Homo sapiens: one gene and its partners. The protein of the gene in region 2 purifies or fractionates together with the protein of the main gene of each other region. This does not show direct contact. Each region holds a gene or a part of one and is shown on either strand. Other genes may lie near its edges.

What was found.
Region 1: the proteins of LRRC36 (region 2) and TBL1X purify together in Homo sapiens (affinity purification with mass spectrometry; 2 studies listed by BioGRID and IntAct, with this or other methods). This does not show direct contact.
Region 3: the proteins of LRRC36 (region 2) and ISCA1 purify together in Homo sapiens (affinity purification with mass spectrometry; 2 studies listed by BioGRID and IntAct, with this or other methods). This does not show direct contact.

The regions. Positions count from the first base shown.
Region 1 is NC_000023.11:9,468,055-9,475,081, forward strand, and holds part of TBL1X (F-box-like/WD repeat-containing protein TBL1X), read left to right. Parts: intron 1-7,027. UniProt on the Homo sapiens protein: F-box-like protein involved in the recruitment of the ubiquitin/19S proteasome complex to nuclear receptor-regulated transcription units. Plays an essential role in transcription activation mediated by nuclear receptors.
Region 2 is NC_000016.10:67,329,812-67,336,838, reverse strand, and holds part of LRRC36 (leucine-rich repeat-containing protein 36), read right to left. Parts: intron 1-7,027.
Region 3 is NC_000009.12:86,272,515-86,279,541, reverse strand, and holds part of ISCA1 (iron-sulfur cluster assembly 1 homolog, mitochondrial precursor), read left to right. Parts: exon of another isoform or gene 1-1,325; intron 1,326-5,299; coding exon 5,300-5,353; intron 5,354-7,027. UniProt on the Homo sapiens protein: Involved in the maturation of mitochondrial 4Fe-4S proteins functioning late in the iron-sulfur cluster assembly pathway. Probably involved in the binding of an intermediate of Fe/S cluster assembly.

The DNA of each region.
Region 1 (7,027 bases), on a different chromosome or scaffold from region 2:
GTGAATTGGAAACCGTTACAAATGGAATTGGAACAAATTTAAAGTTAAGATGGAAGAGAGAATATGTTGAGTTTTCAGAGGAAGTCGGGTACTGCTTCCTTTTCTTGTCTAGGTTTGTTCTTGTCCGATGGGATCAGAGAGATTTGAGATGGGGCATGATAGGCGGCGGGTTCAGGAGAAAGGGAAGCTTTAGAAATGAAGGTAGAAAAGATGCTTGCTTATTGGAACAGTATTTTCAACGTTGAGCTCTGGAATGTTGCAGCCAACTAATGGTTCTCATTTGGGACAGTTTTGTCCCCCACTTTTGAAGGGAGCATTTGCCAATGTCTGGAGACATTTCCCTTCCTGCAACTGTTAAATTAGCAAACAGGTTGAGCCAGCTGGGTGTGGACCTGCATTTTCCTCGTGGAGGCCCTCTTCCAAGTGTCAGTAGGAAAAGGGCTCCCAGAGTGTGGTCCTGCTGCGGGACCTTGGCCCCCACGTCCAAGTGAGCCCCAGAGGTGCCCCAAGCCCTGCCTGGTCATGGGGAATCTGGGCTCCCGCTGAACTTGGGCGCTGGGGACAGCTATGAGGGAAACCTGGTTTGCAGCTAGCTTGCCGTGCACTGACTGGAGCTTTGGGCAAATCAGTGAACTTCTCTAACATTAATTTTCTCATTGAGAGAGGAGGTGGGTAGGAGTATATATATATATATGTAATTATATATATAGGGGTCGGGTAGAGGGAGAGAGAGATTTCCCAGGCTCCTTGTATTAAAGGAGATAGAGTTATTATATTTCTCATTTAGTTTTTATTTATTTGTTTATTTTGAGACAGTGCAATTATTATAGCTAGCTGCAGCCTCAACCTTCTGGGCTTAAGCAATTCTCCTGCCTCAGCCTCCTAAGTAGCTGGGAGTACCAAATGCGCACTACCATACCTGGCAATTTTTTTATTTTTATTTTTAGTAGACACAGGCTCTCACTGTGTTGCCCAGGCTGCTCTCAAACTCCTGGGCTCCAGTGATCCTTCCTCCTTGACCTCCCCAAGTGTTGAGATTACAGGTGTGAGCCACTTTACTCAGTCGACCGACATAGAATTATTATAATGCTTGGAGCCTAACATGCCTTTTTTGTTTGTTTGTTTGTTTTTTCTGAGACGAAGTCTCTCTCACAGCCCAGGCTGGAGTGCAGTGGTGCGATCTCGGCTCACTCTGCCTCCCGGGTTCAAGCGATTCTCCTGCCTCGGCCTCCTGAGTAGCTGGGATTACAGGCATGCTCCACCACACCCGGCTGATTTTTGTATTTTTAGTAGAGGTGGGGTTTCACCATGTTGGCCAGGCTGGGCTCGAACTTCTGACCTCAGGCGACCCTCCCGCCTCGGCCTCCCAAAGTGCTGGGCTTATGGGCATGAGCCATCGCGCCCGGCTAGCCTAACATGCTTATAGTTTCCTGTTTTCTGAAGTTGGGAATTGGGTCTGGAAAGGTATCACCATCAGTCACGATGGTGTCTAGTAGTTTGCTTTGTTTTTTTCCTTATCTTTTCCCTCTTACATTTTAGGGCTGTATCTATATAATTTTATTATTTAAATTACCATATGGTAAGTTTGTCTCTTTGGGTGCATTATGAGTCTTGACACATGCATAGATTGGTGTGACCACCATCATCATCAGGAGAGAGAACAATCTCCTCAGCCCAGAGATGTTCATGGCTCTGTCTCCCACAGTTCCTCCACAGTCACCCCCCCCAGCCCCGAATCTGGGGCACCCAGCCATCTGCTCTGCTCTGGAAGTCTTGGGGATCCCATCTGAATGTAACACATGGTGGAATGCCTTAGGTGAATCCATCCGCTCTTCCAGTACCACCTTTGCCTCCTCTCTCTGATGACACATGAACTTCATGCCTTTGTGTGCTTTGGCCAACCGCTTTTCTTAGAACAGCACATTTTGCACTGTAGATGTTATCACAAGCAAGGAAAAAACAGCTTTGCTCCTTAATGTAAGAAACCACAGTGGAAAAACATCAGGTGTGTTGTTGAGGCTGCTAAAGCTTTGCTCCTTTTTAAAATTTTTTAAAAATTTTTCTGGATACGTAGGTGTATATATTTATGGGGTGCATTAGATATTTTGATATAGTCGTGCAGTGTATAATCACATCATGGAGAATGGGGGTATCCATTCCCTCAAGCACTTATTCTTTGTGTTACAAACAATCCAATTATACTCTTTTAGTTATTTGCTCTTTTTTCTTTTATTTTGAGACGGAGTCTCACTATGTCGCCCAGGGTAGAGTGCGGTGGCGCGATCTCCGCCCGCAAGTTCAAGCGATTCTCCTCCTCAGCCTCCGGAGAAGCTGGGACTAGAGGCATGTGCCACCACACCTGGCTAATTTTTTTGTATTTTTAGTAGAGATGGGTTTCACCATGTTGGTCAAGCTGGTCTCAAACTCCTGACCTCAGGTGATCCACCTGCTTAGCCTCCCAAAGTGCTGGGATTACAGGCGTAAGCCAGCACGCTCGGCCTATTTATTTCCTCTTTGTTCTATGCCAGTTAGTTCTTGATGCCTCATTGTTTCAGATGGGACATTTTCTAATGTCGTGTTTTTGTTTTTGTTTTTTTGAGACAGAATTTCATTGGTGTTTCCCAGGTTGGAGTGCAGTGGCATGATCTCTCCTCACTGCAACCTCCGCTTCCCGGGATCAAGCAATTCTCCTGCCTCAGCCTCCCGAGTAGCTGGGATTACAGGCATGCACCACCATGCCCGGCTAATTTTGTATTTTTAGTAGAGATGGCATTTCACCATGTTGGTCAGGCTGGTCTCGAACTCCTGACTTCAGATGATCCACTCGCCTCGGCCTCCCAAACTACTGGAATTACAGGTGTGAGCAACCATGCCCGACCTCTGATGTCCTTTTAGAGGATGTTACCCTCACCTTTATTGCACAGTCCTACCAAAAGGTACTTCATATGTGAAATGTATCAGAAGGTTATAGTCATGGCTTTAGTTTAAAAACAGGATACATGTTCATTAAGGACCTTTGCCGTTTTCCCAATGGGTTAATCACGTAAATATAAAATAGGCTAAAAATATCAAGTTGTTTTTGCCTTTGTTGTAGAAATAAAAAAATGAATTCCTACATCTGTGTTTCTATGGAGCTGCTAACCTGTGTTTTACTCTGGGCCATATGTCGCTTTCTGTGATCTCATGACGTGGCATGTTTTCTAATATAATCCTTGTCCTGGCATTTTGGTGACTTTTGTCCTGCCTGAGGTGGTCTACCTGGTTGTGTGAAGTCACAGAACCTGTGCATGTCCTACCGTGTAGAGTTAAAGGGCTGGATGAGTGGCCTCAAGCCTTTTCCTCCCTCCCAGGTGTGAAGATTTGGTTTGGAAGATGGACCCTGCTTCAAGGTCTGGGAGGCCATGTTTTTTTCAGACTGGTTAAGGATGACGGTTTTATGTTAACTAAACATTGGGATCAAGTGACAGTTGTTTATGTCCGGTGCCTAGAGTATCAGTTTTCCCATGATTAAAATAAGCGATATTTTGGTAAACATTGATAAGTTAGTTGCGCATTTTAGTTCAGAAACCCACAGCGAGTCAGAAGGCGCTTTGTGCTGCTGGGCGCCTCTGAGTGATTCCGGGGAGTGCGGCAGTTCTCCAGCCCCAGGAGACCCTGTGAAAGAAGCACAAACAATGCTCACGGCAAAACTCACAGTGTTTATTCTTGACCTGGGTGTCTGCCTTGAATTCTTGTCATTTTTCCTATCGTGGTGGATGTAGCCGGAATGCTTTAAAGAAAACATGAGAGTTTTTTCTGCCTGTTTCCCTTGAGCCTGGAACCGATTATGACCCCAGATAGCCTGCACAGGGCTCTTTCCTTTCTGGAACACCTGCCCAGGCTAGAATATGGGAGTAGGGAGGAGGTGAGGCTCTCTCCTGCCCGGTAACCTTCCCGGCCAGCTCTCCAAGACGCTGAAACCTTCCTTCGGGTCTGTTGAAACTGCATCCCCAGCACCATCATGTCGGAGCAAGAAGAGAAGGGCATGTGTCCCCTTTAGGCTTGACTCTTTCCAATTAGGGACCTGCCTGTTGTTAGGATTTAGAGTCCATGTGAATGTGCAGTATTGTTCAGTGCTGCGAGCATTTTTGCTTGTCTGAATTTCCTGATAGAAGGGAATTTGGACAAAAAGAAGCTTATTGTACATGGTGCCATTTTATTCCTTAAATCAATAATAACAAATACTTTATTTATGTATTTTTAGAGATGGGGTCTTGCTCTGTTGCCCTGATCATAGCTCACTGCAGCCTTGGCTTTCTGGGCTCAAGTGATCCTTCTGCCTCAGCCTCCCAAGTAGCTGGGCCGACAGGCACAAGTCAGCATGTCCAGCTTTTTTTTTTTCTTTCTTTTTTTTTTTTTTTTTAATTTTCAATTTTTTTCTAGAGATTGGGTCTTGCTGTGTTGCCTAGGCTGGTCTTGAGCACCTGGACTCAAGCAATCTTCCTGCATCGGCCTCCCAAAGTGCTGCGATTACAGTTGTGAGCTACTGTTCCTGGCCAACATATACTTTAATATGGCAAGACCATATAAAATAATTTTAAGAGGCCAGGTGTGGTGGCTCATGCCCCCCAGCACTTTGGGAGGCTGAGGGGGGCAGATCACGAGGTCAGGAGATCGAGACCATTCTAGCTAACACGGTGAAACCCCGTCTCTACTAAAAATACAAAAAATTAGCCAGGCATGGTGGTGGGCGCCTATAGTCCCAGCTCCTTGGGAGGCTGAGACAGGAGAATGGCGTGAACCATGGAGGTGGAGCTTGCAGTGAGCCAAGATTGCGCCACTGCACTCCAGCCTGGGTGACAGAGCAAGACTCCGTCTCAAAAAAAAAAACAATAATTTTAAGAACTGGAGGAAAATTCAGCAGGACTGAGTCGTGATTTCAGTTTCTGGTGCACTGTGGGTAATTGGGTAATTGTCAGCCTGGATGCTTGTGCTCCTTTAGTTGTCACTGTTACCTTGTCATCTATGTGAAGATGAGAAATGAAGTTGAGTGGAGAACTGTCGCCAAAGTCTGCCATGTAAAAATCGGTAGTGCCAATGTGCAAAGGTAATTCCCAGGTGCTATAAAAGTCCAGGTGGCTTCACAGTTTCAGATTGTATTTCCCGAAAGCGTAGAGAATTGATATCCCTGAATAGGAAATTGACGTCCCTGCCATTTGGTTCATTTGGGGAACAGAATAAACTTGTGTCCTTGCCTTCAGTTCTTTTTTCAACAGAATCTTATCAAGCATTTGAATCGTACACAACTGTAATGCCAGCTCCATGTTGATAAAAACTCAAGAATTCAAAATTATAAACTTGAAAACAGCAATTGCCAACTTCTGACAGTAGCAGGAGAGTCTGGAGGACCTGTTCAGAGGAAGTCGGGTACTGTTTCCTTTTCTTGTCTAGGTTTGTTCTTGTCCGATGGGATCAGAGAGATTGAGATGGGGCATGATAGGCGGTGGGTTCAGGAGAAAGGGAAGCTTTAGAAATGAAGGTAGAAAAGATGCTTTCTTATTGGAACAGTGTTTTCAACGTTGAGCTCTGGAATGTTGCAGCCAACTAATGGTTCTCATTTGGGACAGTTCTGTCCCCCACCTTTGAAGGGGGTTTGGTTTAATTCCCAATTTGATTATGAAGAAAATACCAGATTCAGCTTGCATTTTCAAGACACAGTGGTTCTATGTCAACTTCAGCCATTTCCAGGGATCTGTCTTAGGATACTTCAAAAAGCCTAACCTTTGAGATGCACTCAGCTCATAAGTTCGTGAAAATAAGAATGAATAATCTTCCCTGTCCAGTACATGACAGAAATTATTGTAGACCAGATGAGAGCAAGGAGAGATACTTGTTGATATTACATGTCACGGGATGCTCTGTTAAATTTTATGGGACTCTGAGTGTAATTCCTTTAAGCCAGTAGTCTCTAAATTTGGGGGAAGGACAGGGGACAGAAATGACTTGTTTCAGATTTTAATTCCCAAAAGGGTCTTAGTGAGTTTCATGCCCTCTGGCAGGTGCACAGCAAGATTTATTGGGATGCAGGAAGAAATTATGAAAATGTCCATTAAGAAAATCTCTAATACTTGTAAAAAATATATTTCTTGTCCATGAAATGCATGTTACTTGAGTATTTTATATATTTAATAAATTACATGAGTTAGGAGCACCTTCTGAAAACTTTTTTGCTGAAAAGGATATATGATGAAAGAAACATTTATGATGTAGGTCCCCAAAGGCTGGAAGAGGGGGTGATACCAACGTCCCTGCCTGCAGGTAGGACACAGTTGTACTCCCCTTTCCTCTGACTTCAGCTACTAAGGTATGTGTGCGTTTGCACGCACATGTATGTGCGTTAAGTAACTTTGAGATCCACCAGCTTAAGGACTGGACATCGTTCCAGAGGTACAGGTATTAGTGATTTGACTTAGGGAAGAAAGAATATGCAATAACAGGGAACCATGCACATACTGGATCTATTGTATTTTGCGTGTTGTTTTTAAAGCTGAAAAAATGCGCTTGTTTCGGAACTAGATGACAGTACCTGTTTGCAGGTCCACAAGGAAACCTTGGAACAATGCTATGCTTTTTAAGCGTTTTATGACTGCATTGTTTTCATAATCACTGAATTCTGTTTATAAATCAGCTGATTTCATTGACGGATGCCCTCAGGGCTCTGGAGAATTAGGCGTTTTGCTGCAGAAATGGTTCAGAATTTCAAAGACATCAACGTGAGATTGTACTGGAATTGAGTTGTGATAAAAGTCCTAGGGTGCTTTAAATCTTTAAATCTGGTTATTTGTTTGTTTGTTTTTTGAGGCAGAGTCTCACTCTGTCGCCTAGGCTAGAGTGTAGTGGCGTGATCTCAGCTCACTGCAACCTCCGCCTCCTGGGTTCAAGCAATTCTCCTGCCTCAGCCTCCCGAGTTGCTGGGATTACAGGCGCCTGCCACTGCACCCGGCTAATTTTTGTATTTTTAGTAGAGACGGGGTTTTGCCATGTTGGC
Region 2 (7,027 bases):
TCATGATGGCACCACTGCACTCCAACCTAGGCAACAAAGTAAGATTACCCTATTTCCATAAAAAAAAAAAAAGTAGGCAAAAGAAAAACTGGATGCAGTGGCACATACCTGTAGTCTCAGTTACTGGGGAGGCTGAGACAGGATTGCTTGAGTCCAGAAGTTCAAGTCCAGCCTGGGCAACATAGCAAGAACCTGTCTCTAAAAAGCAATAAAAATAAACCCCAAACCAGACACTCCACTAAACAAACATATGAAAAAAATGGTCAACATCATAAATCGTTAGGAAATTACAAATTAAAATGAGATACCACTATAAATTTGTTAGAATGGCCCAAATCTTAAAACTTTCACAATGCTAAATGTTGGTGAGGATGTGGGGCAAAAGGAACTCTCATTCATTGGGGGTGGGAATACAAAATGGTGAAGCCACCTGAGAAGACAACTTGGCAGTTTCTTGCAAAGCTAAACACAAGTAAATCCCTTGGTATTTACTCAAGCAAGTTGAAACTTTATGTCCACACCCAAACCTGCACATGAATGTTTACAGCAGCTTTCTTCATAATTACCAAAACTTGGGAGCAACCAAGATGTCCTTCAATAGGTAAATGGATAAGCAAACAATGGTACATCCACAGAGTGTAATACTATTCAGCAATAAAAAGAAATGGGCTATTAACCACGGAAAGACATGGAGGAGCCTTAAATACATATTGCTAAGTGAGAGAAATCAGTTTGAAAGGTTACATACTATATGATTCCAACTATATGACATTCTGAAAAAGGCAACAATAAAAAGACCAGTGGTTGGGCCGGGTGCGGTGGCTCACGCCTGTAATCCCAACACTTTGGGAGACCGAGACGGGCGGATCACCTGAGGCTGGGGGTTTGAGACCAGCCTGACCAACCTGGAGAAACCCTGTCTCTACTAAAAATACAAAATTAGCTGGGCGTAGTGGCACATGCCCGTAATCCCAGCTACTCGGGAGGCTGAGGCAGGAGAATCGCTTGAACCCGGGAGGTGGAGGCTGCCGTGAGCCAAGATCGTGCCACTGCATTCCAGCCTGGGCAACAACAGCGAAAGTCTGTCTCAAAAAAAAAAAAAAAGATCAGTGGTTGTCTGTTGCGGGAAGTCAGGGACCCCAAACAGAGGGACCAGCTGAAGCCATGGCAGAAGAACATAAATTGTGAAGGTTTCATGGACACTTATCACTTCCCCAATCAATACTCTTGTGATTTCCTATGCCTGTCTTTACTTTAATCTCTTAATTCCGTCATCTTCGTAAACTGAGGAGGATGTATGTTGCCTCAGGACCCTGTGATGATTGCATTAACTGCACAAATTGTTTGTAGAGCATGTGTGTTTGAACAATATGAAATCTGGGCACCTTGAAAAAAGAACAGGATAACAGCAATGTTCAGGGAACAAGAGAGATAACCTTTAAACTCTGATTGCCGGTGAGCCAGGTGGAACAGAGCCATATTTCTCTTCTTTCAAAAGCAAACAGGAGAAATATCGCTGAATTCTTTTTCTCAGCAAGGAACATCCCTGAGAAAGAGAATGCATCCCTGAAGGGAGGCCTCTAAAATGGCTGCTTTGGGGGCAGATGTCTTTTATGGTCACAGCTGTAGGATGAAATAAGCCCCGGTCTCCCGTAGTGCTCCCAGGCTTATTAGGACGAGGAAATTCCCACCTAATAAATTTTGGTCAGACCAGTTGTCTGCTCTCAAATCCTGTTTCCTGATAAGATGTTATCAATGACAATGCGTGCCTGAAACTTCATTAGCAATTTTAATTTCACCCCGGTCCTGTGGTCCTGTGATCTCGCCCTGCCTCCATTTACCTTGTGATATCTTATTACCTTGTGAAGCATGTGATCTATGTGACCCACCCCCTATTCGTACACTCCCTCCCCTTTTGAAAATCACTAATAAAAACTTGCTGGTTTTATGGCTCAGGGGGCATCACGGAACCTGCTGACATGTGATGTCTCCCCCAGACACCCAGCTTTAAAATTTCTCTCTTTTGTACTCTGTCCCTTTATTTCTCAGGCCGGCCGACACTTAGGGAAAATAGAAAAGAGCCTACGTGAAATATCGGGGGTGAATTTCACCTGATAGTTGTCAGGGGTTTGGGGTGAGGGAGGGATAAACAGATGGTGGGGCACAGGGGATTTTTAGGTTAGTAAAACTGTTATTATAATGGTGGACACGACTGGCCAGGCACGCTGGCTCATGCCTGTAATCCCAGCACTTTGGGAGGTTGGGGCAGGCAGATCACCTGAGGTTGGGAGTTCGAGACCAGCCTGGCCAACATGGTGAAACCCCGTCTCTACTAAAAATACAAAAATCAGCCAGGCATGGTGGCACACGCCTGCAGTCCCAGCTACTTGGGAGGCTGAGGCATGAGAATCACTTGAACCCAGGAGGCGGAGGTTGCTGTGAGCCGAGATCGTGCCACTGCATTCCAGCCTGGGCAACAGAACAAGACTCTGCCTCAAAAAATAAAAAATAATGGTGGACGGCCAGGCGCGGTGGCTCACGCCTGTAATCCCAGCACTTTGGGAAGCCGAGGCGGGCGGATCACGAGGTCAGGAGATCGAGACCATGGTGAAACCCGGTCTCTACTAAAAATATGAAAAATTAGCCGGGCACAGTGGCAGGCACCTGTAGTCCCAGCTACTCGGGAGGCTGAGGCAGGAGAATGGTGTGAATCTGGGAGACAGAGCTTGCGGTGAGCCGAGATCCACGCCACTGCACTCCAGCCTGGGCAACAGAGTGAGACTCCATCTCAAAAAAATAAATAAATAAAAATAATAATAATAATGGTGGACACGACATAATTGTCAAAAACCATAGAACTGTACAACACAAAAAATGAGCTCTAATGTAAACTATGGACTTTAGTTAATAATCGCATCAATATTGGTTCATAAATTGTAATATATCACAATAATGCAAGATATTAAAATTAAGGGAAACGGGGTGGGTGGGGAGAGGTGCAAGGAAGGTAAGCGTATATGAGAACTCTCTGTACTTTATGCCCAATTTCTCTGTAAACCTAAAACTGCTCTAAAAAATAAAGTCTATTAATTTTTTTAAAAAAGGAATGAAGTATTAATACATGCTAAAACATGAATGAATAATGAAAATACTATGCTAAGTCAAAGAAGCCAGACAGAAAAGGCTACATATTATATGATTCCAATGATATGAAATACCCAGAAGAGGCAAATCCACAGAGACAGAAAGCAGTTTACTGGTTGCCAGGAGCCAGGGGTAGTGGGAAATGAGGTGTGACTGCCTAATGGGTTGATGAAAATGTTCTGGAACTATATATAGGTAGCAATGATGCTTGCACAACATTGTAAATGTACAAAATGACCCTGAATTGTATATTTTTTAAATGGGGCTACGTGTGGTGGCTCATGCCTGTAATTTCAGCACTTTGGGAGGCGGAGGCAGGTGGATCACTTGAAGTCAGGAGTTCAAGACCAGCCTGGCCAACATGGTGAAACCCTGTCTCTACTAAAAACACAAAAATTAGCAGGGTATGGTGGGACGTGCCTGCAGTCCCACCTACTCAGGATGCTGAGGCAGGAGAATCACTTGAACCTGGGATAGAGGTTGCAGTGAGCTGAGGTCGGGCCACTGCACTGCAGCCTGGGCAATAGGGCAAGATTCTTATCTCAAAATAAATAAATAAATACTAAAACGGTGAACTTTATAGTATGTGAATTATATCTTTTTAAAATGCACCCATCTCTACAAAAAAAGAAAAAATTAGCTGGGCATGGTGGTGCACACCTGTAGTCCCAGCTACTCAGTAGGCAGAGTCAGGAGGATTGCTTGAGCCCAGGAGGTCGGGACTGCAGTGAGCCATGATCATGCCACTGCACTCCAGCTTGGGCAACAGAATAAGACCATGTTTTTTTTAAAAAAAAATAAATAAATAAAATAAATAAATAAATAAAATTTTCCTGACTTTGAGGGCAGTGTATTGGTAATTCTGTGGTATGTTATGATCTAACACCCTGAGAGTCTGTTAACATGGGACAAAAGCTAAGGACAATTATGGTTTCCATCAATGACCCACAGCATTTCTCATGCCTTTCACTGCAGTCTATTTTGAAGAGCAGACATTTTAACATTTTAAGAAGGAATGTGAATTATTAAAATGATAAACTGCCACAAAGACAAACATTCTTTAATGATTCACATGAATGCATGTCTTAAGAGGTTATGCATTTCGTTTCAGTGTTTATTTATTTATTTATTATTTTTTTTTGAGACGGAGTCTCGCTCTGTCACCCAGGCTGGAGTGCAATGGCACCATCTTGGCACACTGCAAGCTCTGCCTCCCAGGTTCACGCCATTCTCCTGTCTCAGCCTCCCAAGTAGCTAGGACTACAGGCGCCCACCACCATGCCCAGCTAATTTTTTTGTATTTTTAGTAGAGACAGGGTTTCATCATGTTAGCCAGGGTTGTCTCGATCTCCTGACCTCGTGATTCGCCCTCCTCAGCCTCCCAAAGTGCTGGGATTACAGGCGTAAGCCACCGCGCCTGGCCGTTTCAGTGTTTATAAAGAGTGAAGACAAATCAGAGAACAAATCAAACACTGCACAGCATAGATGCCAAGAATAAAAGAATGATCTTCCAATTTTAATATATGGGTTACATAACCCCAGTGGGCAAAAATTTGCTATTTGAAAATAACAAATCAAGTAGTCTCTCTAATGAAAACCATTTACAGCTCATTTGGAAATTGAATTAACAACCTTTAACAAAGCTTATTTATAATGACAATGAATGTTTCTAATAAATAAAACTTTTTCTTTTTCTTTTTTTTTTTGAGATGGAGTTTCGCTCTCTTTGCCCAGGCTGGAGTGCAATGGTGTGATCTTGGCTTACTGCAACCTCCGCCTTCAGGGTTCAAGCGATTCTCCTGCCTCAGCCTCCCAAGTAGCTGGGATTACAGGCATGTGCCACCCCGCCCAGCTAATTTTTATATTTTTAGTAGAGATGGGGTTTCAACATGCTGGCCAGGCTGGTCTCAAACTCCCAACCTCAGGTGATCCACCCCCCTCGGCTTCCCAAAGTGCTGGGATTACAGGCGTGAGCCACTACACCTGGCCATAAAACTTTTTTAAAAAGACCTCAGGAGTCAACTTGAAAGATCACCTATTAACTAAAGTTAGGATAAACTGAACATCAATTATGATAAGAACTATAATGGATTAAAACTTACATTGAAATATATTGCTATGGTTTGAACGTCCCCTCCAAAACTCATGATGAAATGTATTAATTTATTCAGAGATAGGGCCTTGCTCTGTCAACTAGGCTGGAGGGCAGTAGCACTATCATAGTGCACTGCAGCCTAAAACTCCTGGGGTCAGAGGATCCTTCCACTTCAGCCTCCTGAGTAGCTGGGACTACAGGTACACACCACCAACACCCAGTTAATTTTTAAATTTTTTGTAGAGACAGGATCTTGCTGTGTTGCCCAGGCTGGTCTCAAATACCTGGCCTCATCCTCCTCCCTGGCCTTCCAAAGTGTGTAAGCCGCCATGCCCAGCTTTCATGTTGAAACGTAATTGCCAATGTAACAGCACTGCGAGGTGGGGCCTCTAAGAGGTGATTAGGTCAACGGTGGCTTCATGCTGTTATCATGGAGTTAGTTATCACGGGAGTTAGCTATCCTAATAAAGGAATTAGTTCAGTCTTCTCTCTCTCTCTCTCTCTCTCTCTCTCTCTCTCTCTCTCTCTCTTTCTCTCTCACATCTCACACATGCACCTTCTGCCCTTCCACCATGGAATGACCCTCACCAGATGTTGGCACCATGCTCTTGGACTTCTCAGCCTCCAGAACCATGAGCCAAATCAACTTCTGTTCTTTATAAATTACCTAGTCTATGGTATTCTGTTATGACAAGAGAAAAGGGACTAAGACATTTATTTATTTATTTATTTATTTAGACTGAGTCTCAGTCTTTCGTCCAGGCTGAAGTGCAGTGGTGCGATCTCAGTTCACTGCAACCTCTGCTTCCCAGGCTCAAGTGATTCTCCTGCCTCAGCCTCCTGAGTAGCTGGGATTATAGGCACCTGCCACCATGCCGGGCTAATTTTTTTTGTATTTTTAGTACAGATGAGGTTTCACCATGTTGGACAGACTGGTCTTGAACTCCTGACCTCAGGTGATCCATCCTCCTTGGCCTCCCAAAATGCTGGGATTACAGGCGTGAACGACCATGCCCAGCCCTAAGACATATATTTAAATCGATGAGTTTATAATGATACTGAGAAAGCAAAACAGTCCTCACTGGTCACCTTTGGAGAATGCTAAGAAAATAACTCATCATTCTGAAAGCTGGCATATAAGGTGAAAACAAATCAAGCTTTTATGCTGCCTTTCCTATACAAACTGTACCTCAGGATAAGCAAACAGTTGATGTGAGGAAATTTCTCTTTATAGAAGTATTACAGTTAATGAAGAAAAATGAAAGAAATAGACAATTACCATTTTGCAATCCCTAATGAATTAACTTAGGTAATCATATTCAGTGGCTGATATCACGAAAAGAAAGAACACTAGGCACCATATACTTCCTAACATAAACATACACCATTACCTATGAAATCGTCTTGTGAAAAAAAAAAAATCCAACCTGAATCTGATTAAGCCTCATCTAACTACCAATTCATAGGAAGTACAGGGAACACGGGAAAATGTTTAACATCTTAGGAATGCAATGAGCAAAGTTCAGGTTATAGTAAACTCTTTCAAAGCCAGTTTCTTCAAAAACAATTGAAAATGCGAGGGAAAAAAAATGGGGAGCCTACAGATCAAATAAGACTTAAGACATACATCAACCAATTGCAATATATGGACCATATACGGATTCTTATTTTATTTTATTTTTTAGATGGAGACTTGCTCTGCCACCCAAGCTGGAGTGCAGTGACGCGATCTCAGCTCACTACAACCTCCGTCTCCCGGGTTCAAGCGATTCTCCTGCCTCAGCCTCC
Region 3 (7,027 bases), on a different chromosome or scaffold from region 2:
TGGAGTCTACCAGATGTCAACAAAAGGCTAGGAAAAGTAACTGATAATATAACACAGTTCAATGCTGTCATTATCAGATTATCTACATCTTCCCTATTTCCCTACATATCTAGAAATTGACAAGTGGAATTGAACTTGCAGGAGCCAGATGTGATTAAAGAATCTGAAGAGTAAATAGTGCCCTGCTTGCAGACAGATTTATTTCCATCATTGTACAAGTCAGAGCAACTCTAATTTGTAGGACTGGGGTGGATCACAGCTGTGCATTAAAACTCAACCAAGTTCTATGAGAGAATGATGGTGCACAGCCACTATCATTCTTGATGAATTCATTGTGTACGGAAGGTGCCTTAGGGCTTAACTTTCTATTGGAGTCCAGTTGAGAAGCTAGGAAATGCTTAATGCTCAGTAAGGAACTGTGTGTTAGTTCATTGGACTAGAACCAGAAGTCCTTTTGAACAGTGACCAAGCACTAAGATTTCTATACGAAGGCAGTTTAGGAAATACTACACAAGAAGCACTGGAAGTAGCCTAGCAGTCTAACAGTGAAAGAACGGTTAAGTACGTGAGAGTAGATCCTGTTGGTGAAGGATGTAGTCATTGTAAATTATGGTTTTTTTTAAGTTTCAGCGTTATAAATCTTCATTCTTTGACTTATGCTGTGCAAATTATTTAATCTTTAATACCTAAATCACAATGGCAGGAATAAAAAGATGTTACGTTTAAACCATTAAACACTTAGAAGGTGCTCAGTAAATGGTGAATATATGTTTATTACCATGTATCAAATGAAAAAATAATTTGTTAAATTGTTTCAATGGAGGCTGCAAAATTATGTATATATGCCATGATTACAAACCTTTTTCTTTTTAGAGACAGGATCTTCCTCTGTCACCCAGGCTCATATGCAGTGGCATGATCATGGCTTACTGCAGCTTCAAACTCCTGGGCTCAAGCAATCCTTTCACCTCAGCCTCCCAAGTAACTGGGACTACAGGCACATGTCACCTTGACTGCTAATTTTTTTTTTTTAATTTATTGTAGAGACAGGGTCTTGCTCTGTTGCACAGGCTGGTCTCAAACTCCTGGCCTCAAGCCGTCCTCCCACCTTGGCCTCCCAAAGTGCTGGCATTACAGGCATGAGCCACCACACCTGGCCTACAAATATATATTTGTATATTATATGTATTTTGGATGTGTATATACACATATACACAAATAAGAAAAGACAAAAGAGAATGCTTTTGTCTTTTCTTATTTTGACACTCTAATGCCAGCCATGGCTGTTAAAGAATGATTTTAATAAAATACACTGTACTTGTTCACTGGCTCTATTTATTTACCATCTTTTGTTCCCCCAGAAAATTGATATGTTGACATTAAAATGCCATGTTTGTAGAGAAATTAAGTTGTAGTTGTTGGCACATGTTTAGTATGCATAATCACAGAGTTAACTTTAGCTTTGAATTTAATTTAATTTTCTTAAACAGCAAAAAATGAAAATTGCCTGGGGAGTTACTTAAAGAAATACAGGATTGAGAATGAAAAGTTTCTCCTACAAGGATTAGAAAGCGTGTTGCTATGAAGTAGTGATAAAACATTCATCTACAATGCCTTTTCCCTTAATTTTAACAGCGGAAACATCTTGGAAATATATTTATTTTTCAATTAGGCCAAAATACCTTACCTCAAAGATAACCTCTCACTTTAAAAGTCATATTCCTGTGATTTGCATGTGAGTAAAAACCATCATATTTTAGTGGGCTTCAGGAAGCTCTTAAATTTTAAAACATGGGCCAAATCTCAGGTAAGCTATATTCATTAATAGTACATAAATTTCTTGAGAATTACATGTTTCTTAGTTGTTCTGGGAAGTGCACTGGTACTGGCAGGCTGCTAGGCCCTGCAGCATGCTGTGTAGTTGAAGATTTTATGCTGTTTCTCACATGAATTTTACCTAAGCACAAAGTTGCCAGAGTATGTAGACTTAAAGCAGGGTAGGATTCTTAGCCTCTCCCTGGTACTGAGACACAAAAAGTACCTCTTATAGCTCGATTTTTTTTAAGTCCCAACTCTTCCCTTTTAACCACTCTCCCTTGTTCTGAAAATCAGATCAGTCACTTTGAAAGTTCTAAGAACCTTTTCCCTTGGTTGAGTACTGACCTGGGTTGTCCATCATTAGTAACACCCTCCCAGTGGAGTAGGTTTGGTTTTGGCCTGGCACAGGAAAATTAAGACATATTTTAGTTCCTGTAACAGCAGCTTCCCAGGCACACAGGTTCCTGTTGAATGTTACTTTTCCCTTAAAGAGTCCTTCAGTATGAGATGTGAACATCAGCAACTTGGTGATAAGTAGACCAATCCCCACGAATTGCTTTCATTTACTGTATTTAAGTGTTTCCTGCTAAAAGTTGAGAAAATAAGAAAATAGATGACTTTGTAAAACCAAATTAGATAATTTAGAAAACCACTTGGAGATAAAAAAAATTATATATTTGGGGCTGGTAAACGGAGTAGTGTGACAGACACATTTGTTTTGTTTAGATCATGCAGTGGTGTGCCCATCTGTGCCTTTGATCCACTCAGATTAAACCAAGACCACGTTTCAGATTTTAGTTCCCGCGGATATTTTCCATGGCTATGCCTTTTTTTTTTTTTTTTTTTTTTTTTTGAGACAGAGTCTCACTCTGTTTCCCAGGCTGGAGTGCAGTGGCATGATCTCGGCTTACTGCAGCCTCCGCCTCCTGGGTTCAAGCGATTCTCATGCGTCAGCCTCCGGAGTAGCTGGGATTACAGGCGCATGCCATCATCCTCAGCTAATGTTTGTATTTTTAATAGAGACGGGGTTTCACCATGTTGGCCAGGCTGGTCTCAAACTCCTGACTTCAAGTGATCCTTCCACCTTGGCTGACCTCAAGTGATACTTCCACCTCGGCCTCCCAAAGTGTTGGGAATATAGGCATGAGGCACCAGGCCCAGCCAGGCTATGCCTTTTTAAAATAAACTTACAGAAAGCTATTTTTATTTGACAGTAAGTGATTAATTTCTTCAGCATGCACATAGGAAAATATGGTGAAAATTTACATGTGGTTGATAAGAAAGCTAGCTTTTATTGACAATCACTTAGAACAGGGGTCCCCAGTCCCTGCGCTACAGACTGGTACTGGTCCATGGCCTGTTAGGAACAGGGCCTCACAGCAGGAGGTGAGAGCAGCAGGCAAGCCAAGCATTACCACCTAAGCGAGCTCCACCTCCTGTCAGATCATCAGGGGCATTAGATTCTCATAGGAGCACAAACCCTAGTCTGAACTGCAGGTGTGAGGGGCTAGTTTGTGCACTCCTTATGAGAATGATGCCTGATGATCTGTCACTGTCTCTCATCACCCCTAGATGGGGCCATCTAGTTGCAGAAAAACAAGCTCAGGGCTCCCACTGATTGTATATTTTGATGAGTTATATAATTATTTCATTATATATTACAATGTAATAATAGAAATAAAGTGCACAATAAATGTAATGCATTTGAATCATTCAGAAACCATTCCCCTTATCCGTGGAAAAATTGTCTTCCACGAAACCAGTCCTTGATGCCAAAAACATTTGGGACCACTGCTTTAGAAGGGTAATGAGCACTTTAAAAAATAATAACTATTTCTGTAACTATTTAAAGTTGGTATTCTGTGACTCAAAAAACAAAAACAAAACCATAATCCTGCTCTTCCCTGTTTTCTCCTTCCACCCTGTGTGCTACTTCCTGCGTTGGAGGACTGCATGCCTCCTTTTCTGACAGAACCATGGGAAACCATGGGCCTTTAGAGGCCCACCTACTGGTAGTGGTTTGTTTTTTTACAGTGACATGTAATAAGAAATGTATATACACAGATACTATATATTAATAACTGAATTAAAAGTTTTACTAAACAACATTCACGTTTTTAAGTGCAGTGCATTGTTTTCTATTTAAAATGTTTAAGACATGTTGGTCTTCACATTCCAAATTGCTTTCATGCCCTTCTAAACTGGGTCTGTACTGTGTTTAAGCATGCTCATCTAGCTGAGCCCCAACCCCGACAGGGCAGGAGAGCACACTCTAGGGCCATCCATTGGGCTGGCTCTTCCAGGTGTCAGTCCTGGCCTCAGTTTACTACCAAGTCTTAGGTCGTAATATCCAGACTTTGAGACTTCACAAGCAGTCTCAAAGACTTTACTGTACAGTAAAATGTCAGTACAAGGGACTGGAGGGCCTGCAGAGCACTGCCAGCTAGAGGAGCTGATAAAGTAGGAAGGACGCACATAATGTCTTCATTATGATGTACTCTCATAATCATAATAATACTTGGTATTTTTGTGCCTGGCACTGTCCTGAATGCTTTCCATGAGTTTAAATATTTAATCCTCACAAGAATCAGGAGGAGGAGGAACTGTTATCCCTGTTTCACCAGTAAGGGAATAGAAGTCAGAGAAGCCACTTAGGGTGACTGCCCTGGAGGCACAGCTAGGAAGTGGGCCAGGAATGTCGGGGAACAGTCTCCTTCCCAAAGAAGTGGGGTTGGCAACACCGACCTATTTCACACAAACTGTGATGTTTTTCTCATTTTGAGGCCCGCTGAGCTATGTTAAAACAGCATTTCTCTGGGAAACAGCTCCTCCTTGTTCTTATTTCTGTCATTGACTAGCTTAGTTTTGTTCATCTAGATCTCCTGAGATGTTGGTTTAATCCACGTTGAAAAAAATCTATGTGAGCATTTGGTGGGACTGGTGCAAGAAGCACACCCTGGGTTATTTTATGCTGGTAACACTGTTTCCTCAAGCTATGCATTTTGATGGATTAGAAATGGATTGTGAGTAAGAAAAAAAAAAGCAGTAGGATTAATAATCAACAGGAAAAACACCTGAAGGTTGGCCTTCCCAGTGAGATACTTGATTCCTTCATTGGCTCTTTGTCGTAGGCAACATGCTGGTTCCTGGGCATAGAGTTGGTGCACAAAATAGATGCTGCCCAGAAAAATAGCATTTGTAATGTGAGTGAATAGCACCATAGAGAGAAGGACAGGGAACCAACCTGGACTGAGGAGCAAGATTAAAAGGATGTTGCTAGCAGATTTTTTTTTTAAATAAAGAGGATATTTTGAATTAGGTATAGTTTATGTGTTTCTATATAAAGTCCATAAGGTACCCTGGCAAGAATGGAACATAAATTTGTCACATGAATTTGCTAAAGACAGACTTACGAAGACTGATAAATATGAGGCTTTGAATAACAAGTTTTGTAGCTAAAAACATCATTTTCTTTTTTCAGACACCTTCAGCAGTAAACAAGATAAAACAACTTCTTAAAGATAAGCCTGAGCATGTAAGTAAAACCAGTTAATTATTCAGTAAAAAACTGAAGCTGCATTTTCAGAATGAATTTATCCCATGATATACAGTATTATTTCATTTAGGGGTTTTTATTTAAAATGTAAAATATACTCAGGATTTTTAAAAAATTCAAATAATACAAAAGGGTATTTAACTAAAAGGAAGTCATTCTTTCAACCTGACTCTTCGTCGTCATTCTTCCTTCCAAGAAGCAATCTCTTTGGTATCCTTCCAGGGATAATGTATACATTTGAAGCGGCTAGACCTGATTTTCTCAGCCTCCTCACAGTTGACACTTTAGGGCAGATTGTAGAATGTTTGACAGCATCTGTGGCCTCTGTCCATTAGATACCAGTAGTACCCCCTCTTTGCCTCAACCAAAGAATCCACATATGTGGAACCCACCGATACGGAGAGGTGACTGTATAGAGTAAAAGTATGGTGAGTACTATTTCACCAGCAGTTCCTGATTCCACAAAGCTTTGGTTGTCACAACCAAAAATGTCTCCCTGAGGGCAACCACTGGCCTAGACTGGGCTTGTTATTCCTGTGTATATCTCTTCCTACCATAAATTTTTTTGTTACACTTTGCTTTTTACCCTTAATAATGGCTTGAAGATCTTTCCATGTCATTATGTAATGATCTGCCTCCCTTTCTTGGCTGCATGTAGAGTATATTCCATTGAACAAGTTTGAGTTCTTTAACCAGTCCCCATATTAAAGGGTCGTTTTCATTCAGTGCTGCCGCAAACACCATTCAGCAACTATTTAGTGTCTGCAGTGTGCCAGGCTCATTGTTCTAGAACTGTAAGCATGGCTTAGTCCACCTACATAGGATCCATTCCTAGATACAGAATTGTTGAGTTAGGGATGTGTGTATCATCTTAATTGTACATTGTTAGTTGCCGATGGAATGCTGTAAATCATTTCAAGTAATGGATTGCAATATTTAATAATTAGACGGTGGGGTGATTTCTGGTTTCTGTTGTTAACCTACTACATTACAATGTAATGGAAGTTCTCAAACCTACCTTTTAAAATTATTAAATTTCAAAGGATATCAGTGTTCTGATTCAATTTGGATAGACCGATGAGTAGACTACAAATTGGCCTAATGAAACAAGAATTCGGCTTTGTAGAATCAGGAACTGCTGGTGAAATAGTACTTATGATACTTTTGCTGTATACAGTCACCTCTCCGTATCTGTGGGTTCCGCATACGTGGATTCAATCAACCATAGGTCAGAAATATTTGGGAAAAAAATAGAAGGTTGCATCTGTATTAAACATGTACAGACTTTCATTCTCTAAACAATACAGTATAACAACTGTTTATGTAGCATTACATTGTTACAGGTATTCAAGTCCTCCAGAAGTTATTTAAAGTACAGGGGAAGATGTATATAGGTTATATACAAATGCAGTGCCATTTGCATAAGGGACTTGAGTATCTGCAGATTTTTGTATACTCAGTTAGTCCTGGAACCAATTTCCCATGCATACTAAGGGATGACTGTATTTAAATGAAAAATCAGCTCAGCTCTAAGACAGAGAACTTAGGTAGATACTGTTTGAAAATTGCATTAATGTAAACATTGATACTTTTAAAGTGCTGTTTGGTCACTTTTTTAAACTTCTTTTGTCTGTATTGACTGCAGTCTTTTGC